Regions from separate parts of the Homo sapiens genome. Here all the other regions are linked to region 1. Evidence: fine-mapped expression QTL. A gene starts in region 1. Each other region holds a variant in brackets. All regions are shown on one strand. Distances are between the middles of the regions.

Region 1 (2,682 bases):
GCCTCTGATAAACATTTATTTATTTATTTTTTATCTTACCAAAGTCTTTCCCGATAACTCTTCCCAGCTTGGCGTCTTAAGACCAGGTACTTGCCTTCCTGGAGGCATCTAGGTCACCTTCAGAGCCAGGTGGCCATTGGGTTAACTAGCTGTTGAACTGAATCAAACAGGCTCTGAGCCTTGAAGTCAGAAAGAGCCAGAGTGGAGGGGTCTGGGGGGAAGAGGGGCGCTGAGGTATAGGGAGATGAAACCTGCGGTGGAGGCAGCTTAATGGTCCACCTGTCACCCAAGGAATCTCTCTGACAGGGGTCTTTGTTAGGGTCACACCCCAGGAGATGGTTGATTATGGCTGAGTCCAGCCTGGAATGATGGGGGTTGGGGGCAGCTTGGGTAGATGACTCAGTAAATCAAACAGAACAATGAAAGGAGGTCATGCTTGTCCATCTGCATTATTGAAGACAGCCATAAATGGCCTTACCCCAGAGCGGGTCTGTCACACCTGGAGAGCTGATCTGACCTCTCCAAGACCCCTGCAACTGAGTGTTCTGGGATCTGTCCTGCAACAAGTGCCTCGAGATTTGTAGGTGGGGGCCCAGGGTGCTAAGGGATTATTTTAGCGGGCGGAGAAGGGAGGGGGTCTGCAGACGAAGGGGGCAGGTTTTGCGGGGCACTTAGGGTTCTCATAGGTTGTAGTCACGAGCTCCCAGGTTTGGAAAACTGCAATAGTCACTAAGACCATTCGGGGCTGTTTGGGTCTAGCTTGGTCTAGACGGGTCTGAAACTCCGCAGGACCCACCCAACAAGAAGTCATTGTTCCAAGCCACGTGTCAGTGGTGGGTGATACCCCAGGATGGAAGGAGTTGGTATGAGCCGACTGAAATCTACTTGAAGGTCAAAACGGAGCCTTATGTCTTTTGTGTTCCCCAGCGGTTAGCCCAGTGCCGGCCACAGGGGAAGCGCGCAAACGAAGTCCTCGCGAACTGAACTGAGAGCAGACAAAAGCACGCGCTCTTCTCCACCGCCACGCCGGTCCTACCCAAACCCGCGAGTTATCCGTATTCTCCTTCAGGAGTCATAGTCAGGCCAGAAGAGTGCGGAGGGACGGGGCCCGGGAAGAGCAGGGAACCCCCAGAGCCCGCAGCCAACGCGGAGGTGGGCGAGCGGGCGTGCGCGCACTCACTTGCCGGCGCGAGGGAGTGTCGGGGGGGAAGGGAGTGGTCTCCAAAAGGGGGAGGGGAGAAGGCAGGGGGCGGGGAGAAGCCGGCCCTTTAGGACCCGGCTGCGGCGGCGAGGGAGGAGGAAGAAGCGGAGGAGGCGGCTCCCGCGCTCGCAGGGCCGTGCCACCTGCCCGCCCGCCCGCTCGCTCGCTCGCCCGCCGCGCCGCGCTGCCGACCGCCAGCATGCTGCCGAGAGTGGGCTGCCCCGCGCTGCCGCTGCCGCCGCCGCCGCTGCTGCCGCTGCTGCTGCTGCTACTGGGCGCGAGTGGCGGCGGCGGCGGGGCGCGCGCGGAGGTGCTGTTCCGCTGCCCGCCCTGCACACCCGAGCGCCTGGCCGCCTGCGGGCCCCCGCCGGTTGCGCCGCCCGCCGCGGTGGCCGCAGTGGCCGGAGGCGCCCGCATGCCATGCGCGGAGCTCGTCCGGGAGCCGGGCTGCGGCTGCTGCTCGGTGTGCGCCCGGCTGGAGGGCGAGGCGTGCGGCGTCTACACCCCGCGCTGCGGCCAGGGGCTGCGCTGCTATCCCCACCCGGGCTCCGAGCTGCCCCTGCAGGCGCTGGTCATGGGCGAGGGCACTTGTGAGAAGCGCCGGGACGCCGAGTATGGCGCCAGCCCGGAGCAGGTTGCAGGTAACGCGGTCTGGAACAAGTAGTTGGGAGAAACTTGGAGGGCAGCGGAGAAGCCCGACGGGCGGCTGGACCTTACGGACGGTTTTAGGGGCGGCAGAGCCGAGACCTTGGACCAAATCAAGGGGGACTGTTGCTAGCGGGACGCGGAAGTCAGGCCCGGGGAGGGGAACTGGAGTTAGAGCAAGTGGAAGAGCCCTGGCGACTCATTTGGTGGGGATGAATGGGGAGAGGAAAGGCATCCCTGCTGCCATAGTTTTACCCGCGTGGAACGGACCCAGACTTCTATTCTGGAGGAGGGATTTGCTGAGAAGGGGGCCGGTGGTCAGATCCATGGGAGTAGGAACTCGAATCTTATTTGGGGCACTGCTTGAGGACCCAAGGGTCCTGGTGGGATCGCTGCTGGGAGGCGGAGGCTGCGGGGTGCCAGTGACACCAGGAACCTTGGAAGAGGAGAGGGAGCTAGGAGGAGGCACCGGCGTCCCAAGGGGCCCTTCCTTCTACTGGGGTTGTGAGTTGGAAAGAAAGGACTTGGTACTTTGTAGGATGAGTCGCTTAGGAGAAAAATGAAAACCACCACTACTATTTCTCCATAGGGAACGAGCAGGGCTCTTGCTACCACGTTGAATGGAAAAATAAAAGGGAGGCATTTGGTAGGCGAGGGGTCTCCTAGCAGCTGAATCAATGTAACTTAAGCCCGATCGCCGGCTGCATTCCCTGGACGGGGGCAGCCAGGCTGTGCGGTTTCGCATCTGGGCCCCAGATCGAAAGGCAGGAGAGATGCGTTGCCACCCCCCACCCCCGCCCCTATCTTAAATTGAGGGACCCTTTCCTGTAGGATAG
Region 2 (2,682 bases), 86 kb before region 1:
CAAGGAATATAATCCAAAGATATCATAATTAAAGTTTACTGAGTACTTTCTCAACCATACACAGCGTTAAAAGTGGCATTGTTTTAAGCACTTATATTTATTAACATATTTAATCCCTAAGACAACCCTATAAAGTAAGTATTAATAGATACTTTTTACTATGAAGAAAATGAGGCATGTGGAGACCAAGTCATGTGAGCAAGGTCTAACAAGGAACAAGTTATGACACTGGGATTGAGATTGGGAAGAACAGCTGCAAGACCCTTGTTCTTAACCCCCAGCTAGCCTGCTTCTTGAAATGATTAGAAATTAACACAACGGTCACCCTGAGCGTGTTCATCATAGTGTGATAATAACAGGAAACAATCTAAATGCTTAACAGCTGGAGATGGGCTAAATAAAATGACTTCCAAATGAGGGCATGCTATATAGATGTTAACAATCACATTGTAAAAGAACATGCAATGACATGGGAAAAAGTTGATGATACATTTTTAAGTGGGAAAAGCTGTTTTCCATATTTGGAAAAGCCCACATATGAAAAAAAAGAGAGATTTGTTATTATTCATACGTGCATTCTGCACCGGACTGTCTGCACCCCCGCCAGGTACCCCCTCCCACTCTCACCCTGCCCAGCACTGGAGCCCATCCTCATACCCCAGTCAATTCAGGGCAGTTGTCCCTATGTCTCTGGATTGAAGTGCTGCATATTTTAACAAAGAAAAGATAACTAGGCTGCAGGGTGGAATTCTATGCCCAAAGCGTCATTGTGTTTCTCCTCAAGTCATTCCAGGAGTACTTTCTGGATAAGACCGATTCTTAGGGAGTGTTGACTATTGGAAACAGTTGGGTAAAGCTCATAGGAAGAATATTCCGGATACTTGCTGCCACTTAAGAGTAGGTATGGCGGAGAGGATGGGTCCCCCAAATGTGTGGGATTCTGGAAAGTGCCTGCAGGGAGGTTGTCCTGCTCCTTGGACATGGAAGGTAGGCCAGCACCCCTGCCCCCTGGGGTCACCAGTTTTACATTGCTAGCAGTTAAGCCCCAGGATGATTCAGAAGCCCCACTGAGATCTTCTTGGCTTTCTGTCCTGTGCTTCACCCCAGCTCTCTATCCATGTTCAGGCAAAGCCCAGAGCTGACTGCTTAGAAAAATATTTAATTGAGATTCCTCCTACAGTGCCTATTTCTGTCTC[G/A]ATAAGGCCTTGGCATGCCATGGGTGGCTAAATATATTGGCTGTTTCCTCTCCAATGCCAACCTAGTTTTTTAAATGTTCCCAAGTGTGTCTGCCCAGCTTTCCCCTGAGAGAGAATTTACAGCATTAGCCCTCTGTGACCTAGAAGAAAAAACAAAACAAAACATAGAAGATGTTAACTTACTTACAGAAGAGAAACCAGGAAATTATACATTTGTGCAGAAGTGTCTTCATTCATGCATTCATTCATTCATTCATTCAGGTCTCTCAAACTCCTCCTGAGTTACTGGCACTGTGCTTAAACATGGGCCACATAGATTGATGGAATTAGACATGATCCCTGTCCTCAAGGTGTTCATAGTCTAGATCTACCTGCAGTACTAAGTGTTAAGTATGGAAGATGCACAAAACAGAGCTGCGAGAAGGGTCTGCAGTGGCCTAGAGGAGGATACTCAGGGAATATTTTCCTAAATAGCAGCATCTCTACCTGTTCTAGTACTTAGGAATTGAGAGAATGGGGAAAGCTAAATAAAGAAATAGCAAGAATATAAAGGCAGATGCCATTTATGAGCATGTTACGTTAGTTTGGGGGCAACAGCTTGGGCATTTTTCCTAGTAGAATTCTTCTGTTGGATGTGATATATGATTCTAAAGTCTTAAGTGCAATTAGTTTTTCTTCTGTATGCTTTTTTTTAAAAATAAAATTTACTAGTGCAGACAAGTGTTTCATAAACATTTTTAGAGTCATAGAACTCTTTTTGCAAACAAAACATCCCAATATTTAAGACCAATAACATCAGAGATGCTGTGGTTGAGGCAGGGGTGGGAGATGCGGAACCAGTTCTGGCCTCCTCCAATCTCTGACCAAGACACCCCAGTGGGATTCCAGGGCTCACTGAGACTGCAGTTGAAACCTACATGTTGAGATGGTGCTTCACACTTCCCAGGCTTTAAGCTAGCACCTCAGTGATCTCTCTTCACCTCCCTTTGGGCCTGTGACTGTTTCCTGCCTCCAGGAGGAGTCTGCAGTTGCTGCTTGATAGCTCTGATGGAGGCTTGTAGCAGGTGGTCTTGGAATGCTTGGGATCACCAAGCCTTGGGAGTAGTCAAGTCGTGGTTCCTTTGATGGAAAAAAGTGGGCTATCATCTGAAAGCAGGAGTGTTGGCAGCCAAGAGGATGAGCACAGTCCGGTGGCACATTACAAATGACTCTGGCCCCATTACTCATTAGGTCCCCCTGGAAGATGTTCTAGGGTGAACAGTCCTCATTTTCCCATCTCCATGGCTGGATAACCTCTCAGTTCATAGATCCCTGCAGACACTTCCTTTCAACATGCCAAGGCCTTTAACATCTCAAATGGGCTTTACTCTTTTCAATGTCAAGTAAGGCAAAGCAGCGAATGGTCTTTCCATTTTATAGGTGGGGAAACTGAGGCCTAGTGTAGTTGGCTCTTTCACAAAAGAATACCGAGACTCACTGTTCAGAC
Region 3 (2,682 bases), 80 kb before region 1:
TAATCTCATCTCAGTCACTTCTGGTTCCCTGACTGTGATTCCCAAGAGTCCTTAGTCTAGAAAACAAAGGTTTCTAGGCCACTAACCATGGAATTGACACAGAGCTCTCTGCAGTTCTAAAGATGGCACCATACGGCCAGATGCGGTGGCTGACACCTGTAATCCCAGCACTTTGGGAGGCCGAGGTGGGTGGATCACCTGAGGTCAGGAGTTCGAGACCAGCCTGGCCAACATAATGAAACCCCATCTCTACTAAAAATACAAACAATTAGCCGGGTGTGGTGGTGCACGCCTGTAATCCCAGCTACTCGGGAGGCCGAGGCAGGAGAATTGCTTGAACCTGGTAGGTGGAGGTTGCAGTGAGCTGAGATCACACCATTGCACTCTAGCCTGGGTGACAAGAGCAAAACTCCATCCAAAAAAAAAAAAAAAAAAAAGGGGGCACCATGCTTGCTGTGCTTTGGCTCAGCCCATCTGTGTCTCTTCATGTGACTTCGCAGTTGATCTTCCTTTGGTTCCAAGAAAGAGGGAACTCGAAGCCTGGGAATCTAGGTCTGTCTAGCAGTCCTGTTTCTCTCTGTTCTGGCCTCAGGATATCTCATGGGTACACAAACCATAGCCCTTTTGGGGCTTGGGAAGAGGGGCAGGTGGGGGATCGGGACATGGGTAAGAGTGAGTCTTTGTGATCTGCCTTTGTTAAGGCTGATGGCCAAAAGGGCAGACACTTGTCGCAGTTTTCTCCTGGGCTCAGACAGTGGGTCAATGTGCCCCATACAGTGACTGCTTAGATAAAAGTGCCTCAGGACCCTGAAAGAAAGCCTGTCTCCAGGAGGCTACAGTGAAAACAGAACAGGCTGTGTAGTCACACATTCCTGGGTTCAAATTCCAAGTTAGTCACTCAGTATTGTGATCTGGTAGTTCCTCTGAGCCTATATATTCCTTCCTAGGGTGGTTTTAGCAATTGAATAAGAGAGGTGCCTGATGTATACTCAGCACTTAAACAAATGCTAGTTCTATCTTCCTGGTTTTAGGTTCCATGCAGTGCAGAGAGCAGGAGCCCCTGGTTCATTTCCTACTTCTCTTCCCTTGCTCACTTGTTCCAGTCTCAAATACAAATGCGCTCCCACTAGGGCGCTGAGTCTTGATGTGCCCTTGGCTGGGATCTTACTGCCACGGTGTCTCCTCGG[G/T]TTCCTTTACCCCACTCAGGCCTCTGCGTAGACATCACCGCCTCAGAGACTCTCCCAGACCAGTGTGTCCAGGGCGGCCTCCCTGTCTTCCATCCTCTCCCCACTCTGTTTTTCTTGAGAGAATTTATTACCCCTGACATCATATTGCCTCTTCCATTAGCACATCAGTTTCACAGAGGCAGGGATTTTGTTTGTTTGTTTTTCTCTTTTTTCCAAGTGTCTATAACAGTCTTAGGTACGTAGTTGGTATTCAATAAACATTTGTTAAAAGATCATACACCAGGAACACTGGGAGGGTGAATTCTGTTTGCTGGTGGAAAAGGATGAGGGGCACAGGTCCCTGCTGCCTGCAGGGACATGTTTTGGCCATTCGGCCCCAAGCAGAATTTCAGCCTTCACTTGTGCCTTTGCCTGGGCACCCTGATGCTTGTCCATCTGTTTGGGGTGACCCTGGAAAGGCGTGCTCTATGGCTGTAGGAGAACCCTAATGCTCCAGGCTCTCCTGCCCAGATCCCTGGATTCAGGGGCCATCTGGTCTCAAAACTCAAATGCTATAGCAAAACCCCCACACTGGGCTGTGCTTTTTATCCTGGGCTTGGGGCATAGTGGGTGGTATGGGGCACAGGACACCGTGACTTCCCGGATCATCCTTTTTACTTAATGGTAATTCACTTGAAGCATCATTGTTACAGAAAATCAACCTCGAATATATCACACCATAGAAAGCATGGTTCCCATCCTTTACAGAAGGTGACACTGAGGACTTTGGAGAAGTTTCACCTTTGGTGGGGTGGGTGAGAGGTGTTGAGCTCTGGAACAGGACCCAGTGTACCTTGGCTTCACAGATCTGCCCTGCTGAGCTGTGGCTTCTTTGCAGGAAATGTTTAGATGCCCTATTAGGGTTTTGTGGGTGGAGGTGTTGGACTGGAAACATTTTCTCATCAAATATGAGCTCCCCTGTGTGTAAGAGCCTCGCTCACAGTAGAAGCTCCATGGCTAGTAGGGAAAGAATGCACCCTAGGAGATGGGCTGGTGGAGGGAACACCTGACTTCGAGTTGGGAGAACTGGGTTCTAGTCCCATCTTTTCTGAGACAGCCACTTCCCTGCGCTGAGCCTCCTACCCCTCCATGGCTGGACTCCATCTGTGAGGTCCCCTCTCAGGAGTTTATGGGCCTTAAAGTCCCAGGAGAAGACCAGTCCTGGCAGAGCTGCACACTGGCCAGACAAAGCATGACTAGCTCCCACCTCTGCTTCATCAGTCCCATGGAGAGAAAGTGGCAAATTCTCTTGCCAGAAACACCTGAGTGCTCCCTGACATCATTTGGCGTTTATAGCTGGCTCTGAGGAGTGGCAGGATGTTCCATTTGCTCACAAAGGCCCTGGGGACCTGTGGGAACTGGAGGTTGTTCAGGGTTGTTAAGGACAGAACAGGTGGAAGGAGAAGAGCCCAGAGGCTGAAGGGAGCCATGCTGTGGGGGCTGGCCAGGTGGGCCA
Region 4 (2,682 bases), 72 kb before region 1:
GAAGGGGATTCAGGGGGATTTAGGCAAGCTCTCCTCCTAGGCCCAGGAGAAGGTGTTCTAGTGGCCCTGCAGGTCTTTCTGTGTACCCATCTTCCTCTTCCTTTCCCCTTCCCCTCCCCTCTCTTCCCCATCCCCTTCCCCTCCCCTCTCTTCCCCATCCCCTTCCCCTCCCCTCTCTTCCCCATCACCTTCCCCTCCCCTCTCTTCCCCATCCCTTTCGCCTCCCTTCCCATTCCCCTTCCCCTTCCTTCTCCCTTCCCCCTCCCCTCCCCCTCCCCTCTCCTCCCTCTGTCCTCCCCCTCCCCTCCCCTCCCCTCCCCCTCCCTCCCCCTCCCCTCTCCTCCCTTCTCTCCATCTCACTGAACCAGGGGGTAGGAAACTTTTCTCATCTCTCTTCTGCTTCCCTCCCACGTTCATCCACCTCTTCTCAGTCAAGAATAACTCTTTCCTTCTCTCAAACTTGCTTGGTTTTGTTGGCTTGGGAGAAAAGAGTTTCTCCAACCCTTAGTTTTCCTGCACTTCCAGCCCTCTGCCTTCATGGATGAATAAATTCAACACATTTTCTGCAGCGGCTACTGGGGCAGCTTCCATTTTGAAAAAGTGTATCAGGCCTCAATATTAGATTTGGAGACAATTCCAGTTTGTCCCAAGGACTTGTTCATTTTGTTTTATTGAATTTGCTTAGGGATATGACCTTTTAAAGGTCCTGTGGGTAGATTTATGCCAAAACATACACCATTCAGGGACTCATGAAACCATCTGGGGAATATCTGGATGAAAAAGAAAGGCATTTGTTAACATTGTTCTGCCAAGGTGGAGAGCAAATGGAGATCTAGTTAAAACTAAAATACGGCCAGAGAGTTGATTATCTTTTCCCCTAGATGGACCATCGTTCTATCTCCAGCTCAACTTTTCCCTTCCTGGAATAGAGAGAGGCTGACTTCCACTACATGGTCATCCAGCCCACCCAGGAGAGTGCATCCAGTAAGGCTGCTTGTTTCAGAAAGAAGCACACTTGCTCTCCTATGCCTGGACCCTGGGCCAGAGTTACTCTTATTTTTCCCCCGGTGTACTTTGGAGACATTTTGAGAGCCTGATTATTTTTTAATTTCTTTTAACTTTTCTTTTTTTCTTTTTTCTAATAGAAACAGGATTTTGCTATGTTGCCTGGGCTGGTCTCCAACTCCTAGGCTCAAGCGAAACTCCCTCCTCTGTCTCACAAAGTGCTGGAATTCTAGGCATGAGCCACCGGGCCTGGACTAAGCCTGATGATTTCTTATTCTATGAGGTCATA[T/G]AATGGGAGCCTTTGGGTGAGCAAGACTTCTCTGGGGTCAGAATACCCAGAGCCCAGCCCCTATTCAAGTTAACCCTTCTTTCCTTTTTCTCTTCCTTCAACAACTGTTTTGTTGTTGTTGTTGTTGTTGTTGTTTTTGAGACGGAGTCTCACTCTGTCGCCCAGGCTGGAGTGCAGTGGTGTGATCTCGGCTCACTGCAACCTCTGCCTCCTGGTTAAAGCGATTCTCCTGCCTCAGCCTCCCGAGTAGCTGGGACTACAGGAGCATGCCACCATGCCTGGCTAATTTTTTGTGTTTTTAGTAGAGATGGGGTTTCACCGTGTTAGCCAGGATGGTCTCAATCTCCTGACCTTGTGATCTGCCCACCTCGGCCTCCTAAAGTGCTGGGATTACAGGCGTGAGCCACTGCACCTGGCCTCAGCAACTGTTTTTGATGCTATGTTCCCTGCATGGTGCTAGATGCCAAGGATGCAATGATAAATAAGAAAGTTAGATTCTTGCCTCAATGGAACATGCTGTCTGGTGAAAGAGGTAGAAGCAAAGCACCAAGTTGGTGTAGTGTGGCAAGTGCAGCAAGAGCCATCTGAAAACTTTCTGATATCACGTTTTGTCCTTTGCCATTAAAAGCTTCATTTTGCCCGGTGTGGTGGCTCACGCCTGTAATCCCAGCACTTTGGGAGGCCGAGGCGGGCGGATCACAAGGTTAGGAGATGGAGACCATCCTGGATAACATGGTGAAACCCCATCTCTACTAAAAATACAAAAAATTAGCTGGGCATGGTGGCAGGCGCCTGTAGTCCCAGCGACTCGGGAGGCTGAGGCAGGAGAACGGCATGAACCCGGGAGGTAGAGCTTGCAGTAAGCCGAGATGGCGCCACTGCACTCCAGCCTGGGCGACAGAGTAAGACTCCGTCTCAAAAAAAAAAAAAAAAAAAAAAAGCTTCATTTTAGACTGGGCGCGTGGTGGCTTACGCCTGTAGTCCCAGCATTTTGGGAGGCTGAGGAGGGCGGATCGCCTGAGATCAGGAGTTCGAGACCAGCATGGAGAAACCCTGTCTCTACCAAAAATACAAAATTAGCCAGGCATGGTGGCACATGCCTGTAATCCCACCTACTTGGGAGGCTGAGGCAGGAGACTCCCTTGAACCCTGGAGGTGGAGGTTGCAGTGAGCCGAGATGGTGCCATTGCACTCCAGCCTGGGCAACAATAGTGAAACTCTGTCTCAAAAGAAAAAGAAGAAGAAGAAAAAAAAGACTTCAATTCTGACACTTTCATTGGAATTGGAATGGGGCTGGGAGTGGGAACCGGGGCCATCTTGCTGCCCCCAGGGAGAACAGGTCTGAGGTGGAGCCAAGCAGAGTGAGCAGAACTGAGATGAGCAGAGAA

The links. PIP is the estimated chance that this variant, and not a neighbour inherited with it, causes the effect. A credible set is the group of variants that fine-mapping cannot tell apart.
Region 2: its variant is the best candidate, but not a certain one, in a credible set for the expression of IGFBP2 in atrial appendage (GTEx, PIP 0.58).
Region 3: its variant is the best candidate, but not a certain one, in a credible set for the expression of IGFBP2 in damaged cartilage (Steinberg 2020, PIP 0.53).
Region 4: its variant is the best candidate, but not a certain one, in a credible set for the expression of IGFBP2 in unexposed skin (GTEx, PIP 0.68).

Annotation. Positions count from the first base shown.
Region 1 is chr2:216,632,124-216,634,805 of GRCh38, forward strand. IGFBP2 (insulin like growth factor binding protein 2) reads left to right here and starts at 1,297. Exons shown (of 4, transcript NM_000597.3): 1 at 1,297-1,842. The coding sequence starts at 1,401.
Region 2 is chr2:216,546,063-216,548,744 of GRCh38, forward strand. No RefSeq gene overlaps it. Among named protein-coding and RNA genes, the nearest start is that of RPL37A, 49 kb to the left of the region's middle. The variant G/A (reference allele first, on the strand shown) is at 1,197.
Region 3 is chr2:216,552,410-216,555,091 of GRCh38, forward strand. It overlaps LOC101928180 (a long non-coding RNA gene), which reads left to right and starts at 1,643. Exons shown (of 2, transcript XR_427226.4): 1 at 1,643-2,682. RefSeq lists an enhancer at 523-1,034. The variant G/T (reference allele first, on the strand shown) is at 1,188.
Region 4 is chr2:216,559,920-216,562,601 of GRCh38, forward strand. All of the region lies in intron 1 of LOC101928180 (a long non-coding RNA gene), which reads left to right. All of the region lies in intron 2 of LOC105373871 (a long non-coding RNA gene), which reads right to left. Among named protein-coding and RNA genes, the nearest start is that of LINC01280, 46 kb to the right of the region's middle. The variant T/G (reference allele first, on the strand shown) is at 1,295.